Homo sapiens: one gene and its partners. The protein of the gene in region 1 interacts with the protein of each later gene in a biochemical or structural test. Each region holds a gene or a part of one and is shown in the gene's direction. Other genes may lie near its edges.

Region 1 (4,334 bases):
GAGGCTCATGCCTGTAATCCCAGCACTTTGGGAGACCAAGGCAGGCAGATCACTTGAGGCCAGGAGTTCGAGACCAGCCTGGCCAACATGGTGAAACCCCATCTCTACTAACAATACAAAAATTAGCTGGGCTTGGTGTTGGGCGCCTGTAATCCCAGCTACTCAGGAGGCTGAGGCAGGAGGATCACTTGAACCCAAGAGGCAGAGATTGCAGTGATCCAAGATCGCGCCACTGCACTCTAGCCTGGGTGACAGAGTGAGACCCTGTCTCAAAAAGAAAAAAAAAGTAAATAAAAGAATGCATCTCGAATGGTGCAGCTGTGAGCTAGAGTTCCCCAGATTATGCCCCACCTCTTGCTTTAGGCATGCATGGAGGTGGAACCCTGGCTCTCACCACATACTTCTTTACTCTTGATTTTCAGTCCTGGATCAGTGACATTCGAGCAGGAACCGCCCCTTCATGCAGGAACCACATCAAATCAAGCTGCAGCTTGATCGCCTTCAACTCCGACCGTCCTGGTAGGGAATGGCCATGAGTGTGGATATTTGCTCACATATTCGGTCATCGTCACCATAGATGGGGTGGGGAGCAGGGGCAGGCTTGGTGTATTTGGAGACTTGGAACGGAACTGCTTTGGGGGGCTCAGAGGTGAGCCCCATGCCAGACCTTAGACCCCCACAAACTGGTCCAGGCGCAGTAATCTGATTGCTTTTGATTAGGACATATGTGTGTACAAACCACAGGCAAGAGCATGGCCAGGAGGGCTGGGAGGGGACTGACGCTTGTATTTCCAGCTGTCCCTCTGTGCTCCCTGCTCCTCATCTTTGGGCCCTGGATGGCTGGGGACAGTAGGAACAGAAAGGCTTGAAAAGCCCGTGTGTTGGTTGGCACTCTCTTGATTGCTAGTGGTAACTCAGACCCTCAAGCTGGCTTAAGCAAAAAATGGATAATGTTTCAGCCTAACTAAGAGATCAGGGGCTTCAGGCAGATCGGTGCCCAAAGGCTCACATGTACTGTCGGCCCTGACCTCTCTGGGTCTCTCAGCTCTGCCACCTTGGGTGTTGGCTTCTTTCTCAAGTAAAAGTGCGAAAAGTGGCTGACGGTAGCTGCAAGCCCCATACGAAAGCCCCACGCCCCTTTCGTATGACCCGTGTTAAAAAGAGAGGACCTCTCGCCTAATGTCTTCTGTATCCATCTGAGGCATGGATGGCTCATGCATGGGGCCAGAACCTACCCACAGGCCATTGCTACGTGCAGAGGATATGATCTTGTGATTGGTAGAGGCTCTGGGAAGGTCCGAGGCTGAGCTGCTGGATTTCATCTCTGGGATCCCTGGGCAAGGAGGTGGGTGGCCCTGTGGGGCCTGAAGTCAGAGTCCCCGTGTTTGTTTAACAGGTGTACTGGGCATTGTGCCTCTGCAAGGCCAAGGAGAGGACAAGCGACGCGTGGCCCACCTGGGCTGCCATTCAGGTGAGTGGGTGTCTGACTAGTGGGTGAAGCCTGAAACTTGCACCTCCCTCTCCAGGGCCAGAAATTCATCCTCACCTGGTCCCACTGCCGCATGGCTTGCCAGGTCCCTCCTGTCGCCCTGTCTGTGCACTCTCTGAGAGACAGTGGGGCTCAGAAGGCTTCCTCCTGGTGTAGAATTCCGGCCTGGGCAGTGAGGAGGGAAGCTGTGTGCTCCGGTTGTGAGCTGGATGGAGCGGGGTGTGCAGTGGCCGCCCCAGGCTCCAGGCTGATGCTGGCTCCCTGTCCCTGCCGAGGACTCCACGTTGGATGGCTCTGAGCCCTCCGTCTTCTGCTGGAGTCCCCTCTCCACCAGGCATCCTCCCCAGCCCAGCCGCTCGGGGCCCTCCAAGGAGGTCGCTGTGTTGGGCTGCAGGGGTGGAGATGGGCCCTCACAAAGAGACCTTTTGTGTGCCGCAGCTGCTTCTGGGGGCGTCCAGCAGCCTGCCTGGCAGGCTGTCCGCCTCGAGGGAACAGTTTGCTCGCCTCAGATGGAGGCAGAGCAGCCCAGCTGGCCTCGCCTCTCACTGTCCAGCTGCAGCGGCCGCGGGCCCAGTCTCTCTGGCCTGCATTTCTGGCTGCTTGTTTGGAGGCCTTCGGGTGAGGGAAGGCAGTTGATGCCTGGTCCTCAGGCTGGGTGTGCAGGGTCGTGGAGGGGTTCTGATATGATAATGATGGTGGTTAATAACAATAGTAAAGATTTATGGAGATTGCTCTCTGTACTAAGTACGTTAGCTGAGTTTTCTCATCTAAACTTTTTTAAAAAATTTTTAAAAAGTATATAGAGACGAGGTCTTGCTATATTGCCCGGGCTGGTCTCAAACTTCTGGGCTCAAGCAATCCTCCCAAGTCAACCTCCCAAAGTACTGGCATTACAGGTGTGATCCACCAGGCCCAGCCAACGTTACCTGTTTTTTGTTTGTTTTTGTGACAGGGTCTTGCTCTGTCACTCAGGCTGGAGTGCAGTGGCATAATCATGGCTCACTGTAGCCTTGACCTCCTGGGCTCAAGCAATTCTTCCACCTCAGCCTCCCAAGTTGTCAGGACCACAGGTTTATGCCACCACCCCTCCAGCTAATTTTTAAAAATTTTTTGTAAAATGGGGTCTTGTTATGTTGCCCAGCCTGGTCTTGAACTCCTGGCCTCGAGCTATCCTCCCGCCTTGGCCTCCCAAAGTTTTGGGGCCCCGTCAGATTACCTGTTTTAAGTAAAGAGCCTGATGATTCTTATTAAAGTGACCGAGTCATGTGCACTGCCATCCAGTTTTGGAACGTTTCCATCATCCCCAAAAGATCCCGCATGCCCCTTTGCAGTTAATCCATTTCCACCTCCAATACCACAGCCTCAGGCAACAGCTGATCTGCTTCCTGCCTCTGTGGCAGAGGTCTGCAAACTACTGTCACGGCCAGATCCAGCTGGCTGCCTGTTTTTGTAAATAGTTTTATTGGAACGCTGCCACGCCCATTCATTGATGTATAGTCTGTGGTTGCTTTCTTGCAACAACTGCAGAGTTGAGTTGTGACCGAGACTGTTGAGCCCTGAAATCCTAGAATATTTACCGCCTTGCCCTTCGCAGGAGACGTTTACTGGCCTCTCCTCTATAGAGGGGCCTCTTTTGCGCATCTCACGCAAATGGAATCGCACAATACACGGTCTTTGGAATCTGGCATCTTTCACGTAGCATGTTGTTTTAGAGATACATGTGTGTGGCAGCTTGTATAACAAGTCTGTTCTCATCTAATCTCAGATCTCTTTGAAGTAGGTTTTAAAACAACCCATTTTATAGCTATGAAAACTGAGACTCCTGCAAGGTTAGGAACTTACCCATTGTTATGGCAGGGCCAGAATCAGAACCCAGGTCTATAGGAGCCTGTGTTTGGGTTTGTCTTTTTAGAGACAGGGTCTCTGTCTCTGTCATCCAGGCTGGAGTGTGGTGGTGCAATCATAGTTCACTGCAGTCTTGAACTCCTGGGCTCAAGGGATCGTCTATCCTCAGCCTCCCTAGTAGCTGGGACTATAGGCACACACCACCATGCCCAGCTGATTTTTTTATGTTTTGTGGAGATGGGGTTTTGCTGTGTTGCCCAGGCTGGTCCTGAACTCCTAGCCTCAAGTGATCTTCCCACCTTGGCCTCCCAAAGTGCTGAGATTATAGGCATGAGCCAATGTACCTGGCTTCATGTTTGACTTTTTGATGCTTTTTATCTATGAGGGAGCTAGCCCAAGTTGGTGATGCTTGCAAGGTGGTGAGCCCTCTGCTACTAGGGCTCTTCAAGTAGAAGCTGGACCAGGGTCCTGTAGGCAAGTCCATAGCCTCACTGTGGCTGCAACTGTTCAGAGCCTTGCCTGCATGAGCAGCCCTGCCGGGAAACTGCTCATGGGAAGGTGAGCTCCAGCACCCCTGGAACCTGCCCTAGAGGCACCAGGTGCCCTTCTGCCTCAGAGGTGCCGGTGTCGGGAGAAATGGCCAGGTGGGGCTCTGGCTGTTGCCCTGCCTTCAGAGGCCCCTTCAGCCTCTCAGCTCAGGGCCACTCTTGCCCTTCCGCCCAGCAGCCAGGGGAGCAGAGGGTGAGCAACTTCTGGGTGCGTTTCTGATGTCCAGGCTGTGGGGCGGCAGCTGGGGCCCGCTCCAGTGGGAAAAGGCAGCAGCATGTCATGCTGAGCAGCACAGGTTCTGAAGCTGGCCCTGTCTCTTAGCCGCGTGACTTGGGGCAGTTACTCACCCTCTCTGGGTTTTGGCGTCCTCATCCTCCAGTAGGGGATGCTGCTGCAGTGCCACCTGCTGCATCCTTATGAGGATTCAGTGAGGTCCCTGCGTGTCAACCCC
Region 2 (4,334 bases), on another chromosome or scaffold:
TGCCAGTTCTGGAAAAAATGGTAGTAATAATTTTAAGTACCCTTTTTCTTCTTGACTAATAAAGTTGAAACAAAGAGTTAAGGCTATATTTCTTTGTTAAATTTAAAACAAAAATAGATACTTTACTTTCTTTATCCTTGTTACAAGATATGTTTCACTTTACTGTTGAGCAATGTGTTGGATATGAGGCTATTATAATCAAAATTTAAGAGATTAGACTAATTATATTTAAATTCTAGCTGGAAGTTCATATTCTTTATGAAATTTAATGGCATAAAAATGTAAGTTTGCTTTGAAATAGTGCATCTACACTCATTTCAAGAACTTAACAGGTTTTAGAAATTTAGGCAGCACTTTATGAAAAAAATGTAGAAGTTTAAAATATAAATAATTTATAATGAAGTGATCCTATTTCAGAAAAAGTATTTAAATTGTAAATTATGATTGTATATCAGTTATCTTAAATTATATCCCTTTTATATAATTTGGTTTTATTTGCAGGTCCTAATCTACCCATGGCTACAGTTGATATAAAAAATCCAGAAATCACAACAAATAGATTTTATGGTCCACAAGTCAACAACATCTCCCATACCAAAGAAAAGAAGAAGGGAAAAGCTAAAAAGAAGAGATTAACCAAGGCAGATATAGGAACACCAAGCAATTTCCAGTAAGACAGTTCTTTTGTTGTTCTTATCTTCACTTTTGATTTATTCATTGCTGTTCTTGATTTTTAACTTGTTAGAAAATTTTCTTCTCTTTTCGGGAGGGTGTGTACATTCATCACTTGGATACCGTTTTAACTATGTACTTTATTGGAGTTTTTTTTTTTTTTTAAGGCAGCTGCTCAATAGATGTTCTTGGAATCTTATGGTTTATTTACTTTTTCAACTATGAGAAAAGAAAAATTAGATAAAGTTGTTTCTTCAACTAATTATTGAACATAAAAATGATTTCTCACTTTGCTCTAAAAATAGCATTTAGAAATTGTTTACAGATACTGCCTAGGGGCAGTAAAAACCTTTGGTATTTAACATATTTCAAGCATTTTCATATGCATTATTTTATTAGCTCATTATGAAACCCTTATCCCGTCATATATATAATGCTTGGACTCTTATGCTAATTTGACAATTAAGGAAATAGATGCTCAGAGAGATTGTACAAAAATTTTAAGTTTCAGTTAGTAGCAGAGTCAGGGCTAGAATCCTGTTCTTCTGACTCCTTGTACATAGTTTTTATCACAATATGGTTATGTCTGTGAGAACTGTTAGTTCAGACCAAAAATTCAAAGCCAAATGTAGATTGGGTTTCATATATATTGTGTTTATAATGCCCTTTATGCATTTTGTTTTTCTATTTTTTTTCTATTTTCTACTTCAGGCACATTGGACATGTTGGTTGGGATCCAAATACAGGCTTTGATGTAAGTATGTTTTCAAATCATATACGTTATAACTGTATGTGGAAATGTGTTGGCCTATTTTAGATTTTTTTAAATTCATTTTTGTGGTTTCTAGTATCTGTTTGAATGTGCTTGTGTTTTATGTATGTATACAACTGAGGTTTAAAACCATATTATTGTTCTGTCATTCATGGCTAAGTCTCTAAAGACTTAGACTAAGGTTTTGTGTACCTTGGCTTTATACACTGTATAAATAAAATCCTTGTGCTTTGAAAGCCAAGAGAAGAAAATCATTTCTGCCAAGTGATAATTTCAGGGGAGTGTATACCAAATTACTAGAAAGTAGTATAATCAAATTCTGAATATTCAGTTGTTGAATTCTCCAGATCTTTTCATTCTCCTGTTCTTTTTGGCAGTTTTGCCGTTGTTTTATAGCACTGTGAAACTGCTGGCAAAAATTAATCAGCGTTTGGATGCATTATTTTAAAGAGATATTATTTGTGATTGGAGTAAAAAATATTTTTAGTTATTTTTGTTATAGCTACAATGTTAACTCAACAAACATACTGAGCACCTCTTGTGCTGGGCATTGTGCAAGGTGCTTGGGATTACAGGAAGATCCTTGCTCTCAGATTTTCAAATTAATTTACTTTTTTTGTGTTTATTCCTGATTTTTACATACTTACTTAGGACAAGGTAGAATAAATGAGCATTGGAGATGTCTGAATCATGAATAGGCTAATAGAAATCTAAATGAGATGCCCTCTTTTTGAAGGCAGGGAACAAAAAAGAAGAATAAAATAGGGAATATATCTGTTCAGTTTTTTTTAATAAAATATTTTAGTTAGCACATAAGTAATATAAGCATGTTAAAAGTTTAGGCAAAATAATTTCAGAAGGACACAGATGAGACTTAAAATTATGTTTTTTAAATTGGGATATATTTTTATAGTTAGCAGTTACTTTCTTTTGTAGCTGAATAATTTGGATCCAGAATTGAAGAATCTTTTCGATATGTGTGGAATCTCAGAGGCACAACTTAAAGACAGAGAAACATCAAAAGTTATATATGACTTTATTGAAAAAACAGGAGGTGTTGAAGCTGTTAAAAATGAACTGCGGAGGCAAGGTAACTTTTATCTCTATTCAGCGTTCTGTTTTGTTTTAATCTTTTGAGGTCAGTTTCATGGAAACCAGTTAACATTCATACATGTGAACCCTTCCTTGAGCAGAATGTTGAAGTCTATGGACAACTAATGTGGCCCATCACACTGTGTCTTAACATTATTTCATTATAACTAAAAAAACTTTACAAGGTTTTGTTTATTCTTTATTCATAAAAATCCATACAAAATCTTCCCAGCTATTCTATTTTAAAGTAAAAACTTATAGTTGCCTAAATGTTATACTTAAGGAATCCTATAAACCACCAGATTTTATTGTAATTCAGAAGTAATAATTTAAATATAATCACTTTCTAATTAGTAATATACGCATTTCCAGAATATAAATAATGTAAACTTTCTATTTTGAAATACAAATCCTTTTTCTTGGATAAAGTATGAAATTTTCTTTTGTACCTGAGAGCACAATTTATAACCTTTTAAGATTTGATATTTATTTTAAAGGACCTCGTATTTCAGTTTTGTCTTAATAATTATTGCAGTAAAATGCAGATAAAATACTCTAAATTTTCCAATTAACAGTCATCTCTTTGCTACCTTATTAGGACTGCTTTCTTTTCTTCTTCCTAGCTTTTGCATACTCATAATAGTGTAGTTAAGCAAAAGCTCCGGTTAAAACATTCTTCTGAAGAACTTAACTGTCATTTTAAATTAGGCATTCAGTTTACTTATGTCTTTTTCATTGCCAGTGTTCATTTAAACTTTGATTGATAGATTGACTTATATAGTTCATAAACATTATTATGCCAGTACTAGTCTCAGGATATTTAGATGTAAAGGATTCTCATGCCTCAGCCACCCAAGTAGCTGAGATTACAGGCATGCACCACTACACCCTGCTAATTTTTATATTTTTAATAGAAACGGGGTTTTTCCATGTTAGCCAGGTTGGTCTCAAACTCTTGGCCTCAAGTGATCCTCCCGCTTTGGCCTCCCAAAGTGCTGGGATTACAGGCATGAGCCACCATGCTCAGCCAAGTTTATTTTTCTGTTATATCTTACATTTTCACTGATGTGGAATAAGAATGCTAATATCATGACTACTGGAATAATAGTAATTTTTGTTAATAACTTTAATTTTGCAGTGTATGGAAATTCTCAGTTAATTTGTTAATAACCAGTTCATGTCTCTGGAATAAGTAATTGAGCATTTCAACAAAGCAACCAGCCTCCTATAATGCCATTACTAGAATTGCAGACAATTTTTAGAGATACAGACATTATGCTATAAAAGTACAAATGTAAATTAAATGACAAAGGCTTACATTTTGAAAGGAAAGCATTATATTTGGGCTTTAGCGCAGATTAATGTGAATGAATTCTATTAAGCTATGCTACACTATAATTCTGAATGTGAATTGATTTTACTTAAAAAAATAAGTGTACTTGATTCTTTTTTAAAGAGGGAAGGTATTTATTTTTATTAAAATGTAAACTAATGCTAATTAACAAAATGTTTAATTTCATTGGTATATTTTGTTATTATTTTGTAAAGTAGAAAATGTTTATTCCCCTTACTTTCAGAACTGGTACTAATTCCAAAAAAATAAACTATTCTGTTTTAGCTCATATTTTTTTAAGAACCAATAAGAAAGTGATCTTTAGGCTGACAATTCTCAAAAAAAATTGTGAGATATCATCTGTGCTCAGGTATCTTTGTAAAATAAAATGCAAAGATGAGACCCTTTTTTGGTATTATTCAATTTTTATACATGTTAAAATGAATTACTTTTCAATATGATGTT
Region 3 (3,940 bases), on another chromosome or scaffold:
TGTGGGACCCCATCTATACAAAAAATTTAAAAATTATCCAGATGTAGTGGTGCATCCCTGTAGTCCCAGCAACTTAAGAAGCTGAGGTGGGAGGATCACTTGAACCTAAGAGGTGGAAGCTACGGTGAACTGTTTTTTTGTTTTATTTTGTTTTGAGATGGAGTCTTGCTCTGTCATCTAGGCTGGAGTGCAGTGTGCGATCTTGGCTCACTGCAACCTCCACCTCCCGGGCTCAAGTGATTCTCCTGCCTCAGCCTCCCGAGTAGCTAGGACTACAGGTGCGTGCCACCATGCCCAGCTGTTTTTTTGTATTTTTAATAGAGATGGGGTTTCACTATGGTGATCTGTGATCCTGCCACTGCACTGCAGCCTGAGTGACAGAGCGAGACCCTGTGAGTGAGAGAGAGAGAGGGAAAGAGGGAGAGGGAGAGAGAGAGAGGAGGGAGGAGGGAGGGAGGTGGGGGAGGGGAGGGGAGAAGAAAACACCAGCCAGGGAACATGTGCAAAAGTGTGGAGGTGTGAAAAATGTATGTTATCTTCAGGGACTAGCAGTTAATCCAGTTTTACTGCAGCAATAGGATTCATTAGTTAGGAGTAAAGGGAAACTATAAGAGGTGAGGCTTAAATAGTGGGCTAAGATAGATTTCTGGAGGGCCTGAGTAACATAATAAGGACTTTAAAACTTACCCTTAAATAGTAGGGAGGCTTAGAAAGTTGTTTTGGTTTTAGGAGATTTTTTTGAGAGGGTCCCACTCTGCTGCCCAGGCTGGAGTGCAGTGTACACAATCTCAGCTCACTGCAACCTCGACCTTTCAGGCTCAAGCAGTCCTCCTGCCTCAGCCTTCCAAGTAGCCGGGACTACAGGTATGCCCCACCACACCCAGCTAATTTTTGTATTTTTTGTAAAGACAGGGTCTCACTGTGTTGCCCAGGCCTGTCTCGAACTCCTGGGCTCAAGCGATCCACCGACCTCAGCCTCCCAAAGTGAGAAAGTTTTTAGAGGAAAGTGACAATATGATTAGATTTATATTTTTCTGTTTTACTTTATTTTTGTAGAGATAGGGGTCTCACTGTGTTGCCCAAGCTGGTCTTGAACTCCAGGCTTCAAGTGATGCTCCCACCTGGGCCTTCCCAAAGTGCTGGGATTACAGGCATGAGGTACCATGCCTGGCCTAGATTTGTATTTTTAAAAGAGAATTTTACTAGCAATTAGAAAGATTAGAGCAGGCAAATACCAGAGGAAGTGAGAGCAGTTTGGAGGTTGTTTGCTCACTTCTAGTGAACAGTTTTTCTAAAATTTAAGAAATACATGTTTTGGATTCTGTGTGAATATTCTAATTGAATATATAATTTTATAGTTCCCATAATTTGATAGACTTTTGTTGTTACATTTTCCCTGTGTTTCAGTAAACCAGAATGTAAGGCCATAAAGAATTATCTTTTGTAAATAGATTTATCTAGAAACCAGTCTATAATTTCCTTACGATTGTCTAGTTTCTTCAGCAGCTTACTGTATTTTGGTTTTGTAGGTTGGCCTGGCAGTGGTCAATGGACAGCTCATGGCAGTAGGAGGTTTTGATGGCACAACATACTTGAAGACCATAGAAGTTTTTGATCCTGATGCCAATACATGGAGGTAACTTTTAAGCTGTGTAGCAAATCACCTCACTACTGATTTGGAAATCATGGGCTTGAAATAGCCTATGACCATCAGAACTGGGATGGTCAGTACATTGGAGTACTTTGAAGAGGGCTGAAGTTACACATATTTATGGCTCATTTTGACTTGATTGCTCTAAAGTGGCTGATATATTACAAAATTCTCCTTTTCAGTAACTGTCCAGTTTTATAATTAGAGATGGGTAAAATAGGGAAAAAAAATCTTCCTAGTCCCATCATGTTCAGCTGAGGAAACAAAAGCACCGAGAAATAAAATGACCTGCCTAAGTGAGTTAGTGACAGAGTTAGAATTAGAACCTAGGTCTTTGGCTCCAAATCTGTCCATGCCATTTTTTGGTGTTCTTGTGGGAAACCTATGCCTAGGAGAAACAAATTGCAATTACTTTTGAAAAATTAATATTTGAAAAATAATATTTCATTTTTAAAGCCATTTTAACTTTTAGGGAGGAGGCTACATCTTATTTAAGAGAGCTTAACTTAAACTTCATTTCTAGGTTTAATTTTACTTTGCTTTTAAATCCTCAATTGTCTAATAAAGCTTTCTTAAGTAGTTAAGTAGTTTTTATAATTTCACATAAATTAGGTGACTTTTGCATTTATTTTAAATATTCAAGAACCTTTACAAACTTAGCAAAATTCTCTTAAACCTTTAAACTTAAAATAATTAAGTCTAAATCTTTACTCAATCATATTTTATACTTGAATCACAAGAGTAATCTTATAGATGCCCTAAAAAGCCAAATTCTCTTAAACACTACAGGAACTTAAAATGCAAAACACATAGTTTATTCTCAAACTTTAAAAATAACAATACTATGGGTTTGATGTATGGCATATCTGTACTTAATTCTAAATACTAGTCTTCTAAGAAAACAGTTTTGCCTTCCAAGCAATTTGGGGTTTCCTTCTCAATAAAATGGGCTTACTTGCCTAAGCAAGTTTAGGGTTACCATCTCAGTGGTTAAGGTTGCACATCAACCAGAAATATCAGGCTGGACATGTGAGCTGAGGCAGCAGACATTCTGGGAAATTTTTCTTATGACCATGAAGGATAAGCTGAGCTCTGTTTTATTGTTACTATTCTAAAAGAGGCAGTCTTGTAGTCCTTTCTTACTGTATTCTAATAGTCTATCTCTAGGAAAGCCACAACTCTCACAGAGATTTAAGTGACATGCTTTGGATCCTACATATGTCTCACAGCTCCATATGACTCAGTGGTCACAAAACTAAAGTCAGGCTAATAACAGCGTGTACGTTTTGCTCCTACATCACATTTTTACAGTCCTGTTCATTAAGTAAAGATTTATTGATGGCCAGGCACGGTGGCTCATGCCTGTAATCTCAGCACTTTGGGAGACCAAGGTGGGCGGATCACCTGAGGTCAGGAGTTCGAGACCAGCCTGGCCAACATGATGAAACCTCGTCTCTACTAAAAATACAAAAACTAGCCAGGCATTGGGGTGGGCACCTGTAATCCCAGCTACTTGGGAGGCTGAGGCAGGAGAATCACTTGAACCTGGGGTCAGAGGTTGCAGTGAGCAGAGATTGGGCCATTGCACTGCAGCCTGGGTGACAGAGCAAGACTCCGTCTCAAAAAAAAAAAAAGATTTACTAAGTGCTCCGAGCCCTGGGGATACAAAACTGAACAACAACAACAAAAATTCCTGCCAAGCGCACGCCTGTAATCCCAGCTACTAGGGAGGCTGAGGCATGAGAATCTCTTGAACCCAGAAGGTGGAGGTTGCAGTGAGCCGAGATCACACCACTGCACTCTAGCCTGAGTGGAAGAGCAAGACTCCGTCTCAAAACAAAACAAAACAACAAAAAAGTTCCTTGCCCTGCTGGAGCTAACCAATTGTATTGAGGGAGACAAACAGTACCATACCAGTAGATGGAAGTGCTGTGGCAAATATCAAAGCAGGGGAGGGGGCTAGGGAGTACAGGGAGGGGAATCTGTTTTTAAAGGTGTTCAGGGAAGGCCTCATTGGAAAGGTAGCATTTTAGCAAAACCTAAATACGGTAAAGGATAGGTAATGGCAGCTTTGGGCCTCTCACTGGCAGGATATTTTCTTCCATATACAGCTTTCTATTTTTACTAGGAATTTTGATTAAGCATAATTTCTGAAGACAGCCAAATTTACTGTCACTTAATCACTATAATCTTATCTGAGGACTTGTTTCTTAGTAACTGTCACTAAATAGAATTAGTAATAGATGACAAAGTAATAGTCATGAAATTATTGAGGATCATCTGTTGAAA
Region 4 (4,334 bases), on another chromosome or scaffold:
ATTACCAGACTGTCTGGATGATCATATCTTTGTAATACATTTTGAAATCTGGACTGTAAGTCATTTGACTTTGTATTTCTTTTTCAACATTGTTTTGACTATTTTGAGTCCTTTGGATTTCCATATACATTTTAGGATACAGCTTTATCGATTTTTGTAAAAAAGACAGCTGGGATTATGATTGGGATTGCATTGAATCTGTAGATTTAATTGGGGTGATGGTGGTATTGCCAGCTTGACAATATTGAGCCTTCCAATCCATGAACATGGAATTGAGTTTTGAATGTTAAACCAAACTGGTATTCCTGTACCATTTGGTCATATATTGCTGGATTTGGTTTGCTTGTCTGTTCTTATGGAGACTCTGGTAGTATCAGAGTTTAGGTCTTGGGGTGGTGAGGATGAACATTTTAACATGTTTAGTTTTAAAGTATATTTCATTGAACCTCCCTTCTTCAGTGGTCTTTGAAGAGTTTTGAGTGCAATCACCATTGAATTTCTGGCTGGCTTAGCTGTCTTATTTATAAAGTTATTTTAGGCACCAAGAAATTTCTAACTGCATATAACTTTCAGTATTGACAATTTCTCTGATATTTCTCCTTGAACTTTTCAAAACAATGTATTTCATCACTGTTGCCAAAATTTTCAAGACACATTTATCTTAGCGATTATAAAAGAATATACATATTTTAATTTTAAAACATTTGGAATTATGATTAAACATCCTCAGTTACGTGGAGTATGAAAAATGTTTTAAACTGAGTTAAACCTCTGGAACATTATATTTTAATTTCTTTAGGAAATATATTTACTCTCTAAGGAGCCCTTCATTAAATTACTGTAAAGTTACTTGTGACACCACCCATTTAACTTTTTTTTTCCCCCCGCAATATAGCCGGGGTCTCACTATGTTGGCCAGGTTGTTTTGAATTCTGGACCTCAGGCAATCCTCCTCCTTCAGCTTCCCAAAGTGCTAGAATTACAGGTGTGAGTTACCACACGTGTTCACGTTTAACTTTAATATGCTGAAACTTTTTAACAACAGGAACAGATTGGTCTTTTGTTTCTTTTACCTAGAATTCAGATGTATAGAAGATAAATGTGATGTTATAAACAGATTAAATGTCTGTCTGCATTTTAGAGGTCTTAGTTGGCTTGTTTTTATAAGACAGTGAACCATAATTTTGAGCATAATTATTTCTGAATTTTTATATTTGATAGACAAAGAATCGATGTGTTTTCAGTAATTCAGTGTTAAGCATAAAGAAGGAATGTTTTCTGTCATTGCAGTGGGTTTCTTTTTGGTTGCTTTTGAATTATTAGGTGATCATCAGAGAAATTATTTATGGAAAGAAATCTCAGGGAGATGATCTTGATACTATGAACACACGGAATATTTCCCACCTGTTGTTTATACAAGTGATCAAGTAGGTGGTGTACTATACATTGATAGAGAAATGTAGTGTCTTTGTATACAACATTTCAGATGACTTTTTTTTTTTTTTTTTGTAAACTAATTGTGGACAGTGGAAAATAACCAGTCTCATCATTAGCGTTTGAAGTTTGAAAATTTGGTTGTCGGTAAATCAAATTCTGACTAAAGATGTTAAAGGATGTTACAAGGTATCTGCTAGTGGAAGAGGGAGGCATTTTTCATTAGAAAAATACATTACCAACCAGACAAAATAAAATTATTAATTGTTTCACAGACTGCTTAAAGACTGCATTAAATAAAAATGATCAGAACTTTAAATGTTTTATTTATAGAAGACTATTTATTTATTTTTTTACTATCCTGCTTTTTTAGGTTTTACACACGCTGGAAAGATTGGGAATCATGGTATTCTCAGAGCTTTGGTTTACATTTTTCCTTGAGAGAAGAACAGTGGCAAGAAGACTGGGCATTTATACTCTCTCTTGCTAGTCAGGTGAGGATGCTTCAAGTCTTGTTGCTTCTATGAGAAAAGTAAGCATGTAGTCTAAACTGGTTTATTTGAGCAAACCATGTTGGGGGCAATGTGGTCAAAGAAAAGAATGCTTGACGTGGTATCATCAGTCAACTTGGGTTCTAGTGATGACTGCTGTGTATCAAATAAATAGCATCGCAAGTATAGATGAGCATCGCAAGTATAGATTAGCATCGCAAGTCCTCACTGCAGAGCAGGAAGAGTAACGTGTTTTTATATCGAATGATTAAAAACATCAAAAAGTGAAAGCTGTGCTATGACGGTTACATACAGTAGATAGTCTTGGGATTGCTCTCCGTTCCTGCAGCATAGGCTTGATGCCTATGGTACCTATCCAGGTGAGCTCTGTTCTGTCTCTGGGGACACTTAAGATTACTGGTGTAGGTACTTGCATTGCTGTTGCTGATCTGTCAGGCCCTGAGGAACCAGTTGTCAATCTTCATAATGCTCCCTGTGGTGAGGCAATACCTGTGTCATGTAGGCAAAGGAAAAGGGTAGTTTAGCTTACTCTGAACTAATTACCATCAATAGGAATGATTTCTGATTAATGTGGGAATGAAGTTTTGCAAGTTTGCTAACGTCTTTTTATTAATGAAGGCTGCTTGTGACACAGAACTGTGTAGGGTTGTCCCTTAGACTCTTGGTTTCATGCTTTATTTTGTGAAGCACTTCAGTATACCAAACTGTAAAGTACAAATATATATACAACTACTCCTTTTTTTTTGCAGAAAGCACCATGGTTCATTTGAACTTAGAGAAGGAGGTACCCGATCTTTGGGCAATTTGGGCAGGATTCATAGTGGTTGATTTACATGAGACATGTATCTCACACCATGCATTGTAGCTCGATGATGGACCCATTTAATATTAGTATTCACGAGTTAGTTGATACTGCCATTTACATTTGCATGAAACAGGCTCACTTATTTATTTCAGGAGGACTTTGTTGTAGGTAGTGCTTTCACAGTAACTTAACGAGAATGTGATAATAAAGCATCCTTAGTTATCTGAATCTCTGGTTCCTGAGGTTGGAGAGTTAGTAGTGAGGGATATTTCAAAGTATGTATGCACATCTGTATAATTTGTGAGTTTGGATGGTAAATGATATTTGCATGTAGCCTTTATAGATTTCTTTTACAGTTTTACTGGATTTATTATTTGAGGAATCAAATGCTGCTTTGACAATCTTTTCTTTCTTAAAAACCAACTGCGATAGTATACTGAAGGGGAGGTAGTATTGTTTTTTACACATCAGTTTTCCAGGAGTGGTAATAAATGTTTTAAGTTTTTGTTTTGTTTCGTACAGCCTGGAGCAAGCTTGGAGCAGACGCACATTTTTGTACTGGCACATATTCTTAGACGACCAATTATAGTTTATGGAGTAAAATATTACAAGAGTTTCCGGGGAGAAACTTTAGGATATACTCGGTTTCAAGGTAAGCCATTATTCAGGAACGTTTTACAAGTTTCTTTGAACGGAATGGCTCAGATGTCAGGAAGGAGCAGTGGACAGGGGAATGTGAACAAGGGCAGTGAGGGAGTGGCTCTTTCTTCCTGTGACTGTTGGGATTTTCTTCCCTCTCTTTCCAGGTGTTTATCTGCCTTTGTTGTGGGAACAGAGTTTTTGTTGGAAAAGTCCGATTGCTCTGGGTTATACGAGGGGCCACTTCTCTGCTTTGGTTGCCATGGAAAATGATGGCTATGGCAACCGAGGTGCTGGTGCTAATCTCAATACCGATGATGATGTCACCATCACATTTTTGCCTCTGGTTGACAGTGAAAGGAAGCTACTCCATGTGCACTTCCTTTCTGCTCAGGAGGTAAGCAGTTTCTCCTATGAACTATTTCTAGTAGTGACCTTGTACCAGAAACAGCCTGAAGTGCCTTTCAGGTGTGGTTTTATCTGCACTATCACTTAATTTCTGAATGTGATGGTAGTAATTGCTGAAGGTACTAGCTATACTTTGAAATTTACCTTTTCAAAACTGCTGTATGGGGACACATCAAGGAACTTAAGGTGGTGATGGGTTTTAAGAAGAAAAAGTAAAGATGAGGTTTGTGATTTAAATATGGCATTTTAGGGAATGAGAAGTGAGTTTTTATCTGAAAGCAGAGTTCCAAGAATTGCAAGGCCAGTGTGGTTTAAGAGGGGAAGCAACAGGGAAAGAGAGAGGGTAGGCGGCAGGGGGAGGGAGGAAGGGAGAAGAGGTCAGAGAGGATAGGGATGGGGGGGAGTTCATTGAAGGCTTTTTAAAGCTTTGGGTTTTACTCTGGATAACGTGGTAAACCAATGGCCAGTTTACCCAGAAGAGGAACATTTGGGGTCTGGTGCATGGCAGGAGCAGGAACACCAGGTATTGTAGATGA

Evidence for each region.
Region 2: the proteins of CORO7 (region 1) and WASL form a complex in vitro, tested with the Homo sapiens proteins (one study listed by BioGRID).
Region 3: the proteins of CORO7 (region 1) and KLHL20 form a complex in vitro, tested with the Homo sapiens proteins (one study listed by BioGRID).
Region 4: of the proteins of CORO7 (region 1) and ZRANB1, one has a biochemical effect on the other in vitro, tested with the Homo sapiens proteins (one study listed by BioGRID).

What each region holds. Positions count from the first base shown.
Region 1 is NC_000016.10:4,409,493-4,413,826, reverse strand, and holds part of CORO7 (coronin-7), read left to right. Parts: intron 1-422; coding exon 423-519; intron 520-1,396; coding exon 1,397-1,471; intron 1,472-4,334. Other genes in the region: CORO7-PAM16 protein, read left to right, coding at 423-519, 1,397-1,471. UniProt on the Homo sapiens protein: F-actin regulator involved in anterograde Golgi to endosome transport: upon ubiquitination via 'Lys-33'-linked ubiquitin chains by the BCR(KLHL20) E3 ubiquitin ligase complex, interacts with EPS15 and localizes to the trans-Golgi network, where it promotes actin polymerization, thereby facilitating post-Golgi trafficking.
Region 2 is NC_000007.14:123,692,915-123,697,248, reverse strand, and holds part of WASL (actin nucleation-promoting factor WASL), read left to right. Parts: intron 1-501; coding exon 502-670; intron 671-1,383; coding exon 1,384-1,426; intron 1,427-2,380; coding exon 2,381-2,534; intron 2,535-4,334. UniProt on the Homo sapiens protein: Regulates actin polymerization by stimulating the actin-nucleating activity of the Arp2/3 complex. Involved in various processes, such as mitosis and cytokinesis, via its role in the regulation of actin polymerization.
Region 3 is NC_000001.11:173,780,595-173,784,534, forward strand, and holds part of KLHL20 (kelch-like protein 20), read left to right. Parts: intron 1-1,529; coding exon 1,530-1,636; intron 1,637-3,940. UniProt on the Homo sapiens protein: Substrate-specific adapter of a BCR (BTB-CUL3-RBX1) E3 ubiquitin-protein ligase complex involved in interferon response and anterograde Golgi to endosome transport.
Region 4 is NC_000010.11:124,979,902-124,984,235, forward strand, and holds part of ZRANB1 (ubiquitin thioesterase ZRANB1), read left to right. Parts: intron 1-1,323; exon of another isoform or gene 1,324-1,427; intron 1,428-1,807; coding exon 1,808-1,928; intron 1,929-3,273; coding exon 3,274-3,403; intron 3,404-3,557; coding exon 3,558-3,787; intron 3,788-4,334. UniProt on the Homo sapiens protein: Ubiquitin thioesterase, which specifically hydrolyzes 'Lys-29'-linked and 'Lys-33'-linked diubiquitin. Also cleaves 'Lys-63'-linked chains, but with 40-fold less efficiency compared to 'Lys-29'-linked ones.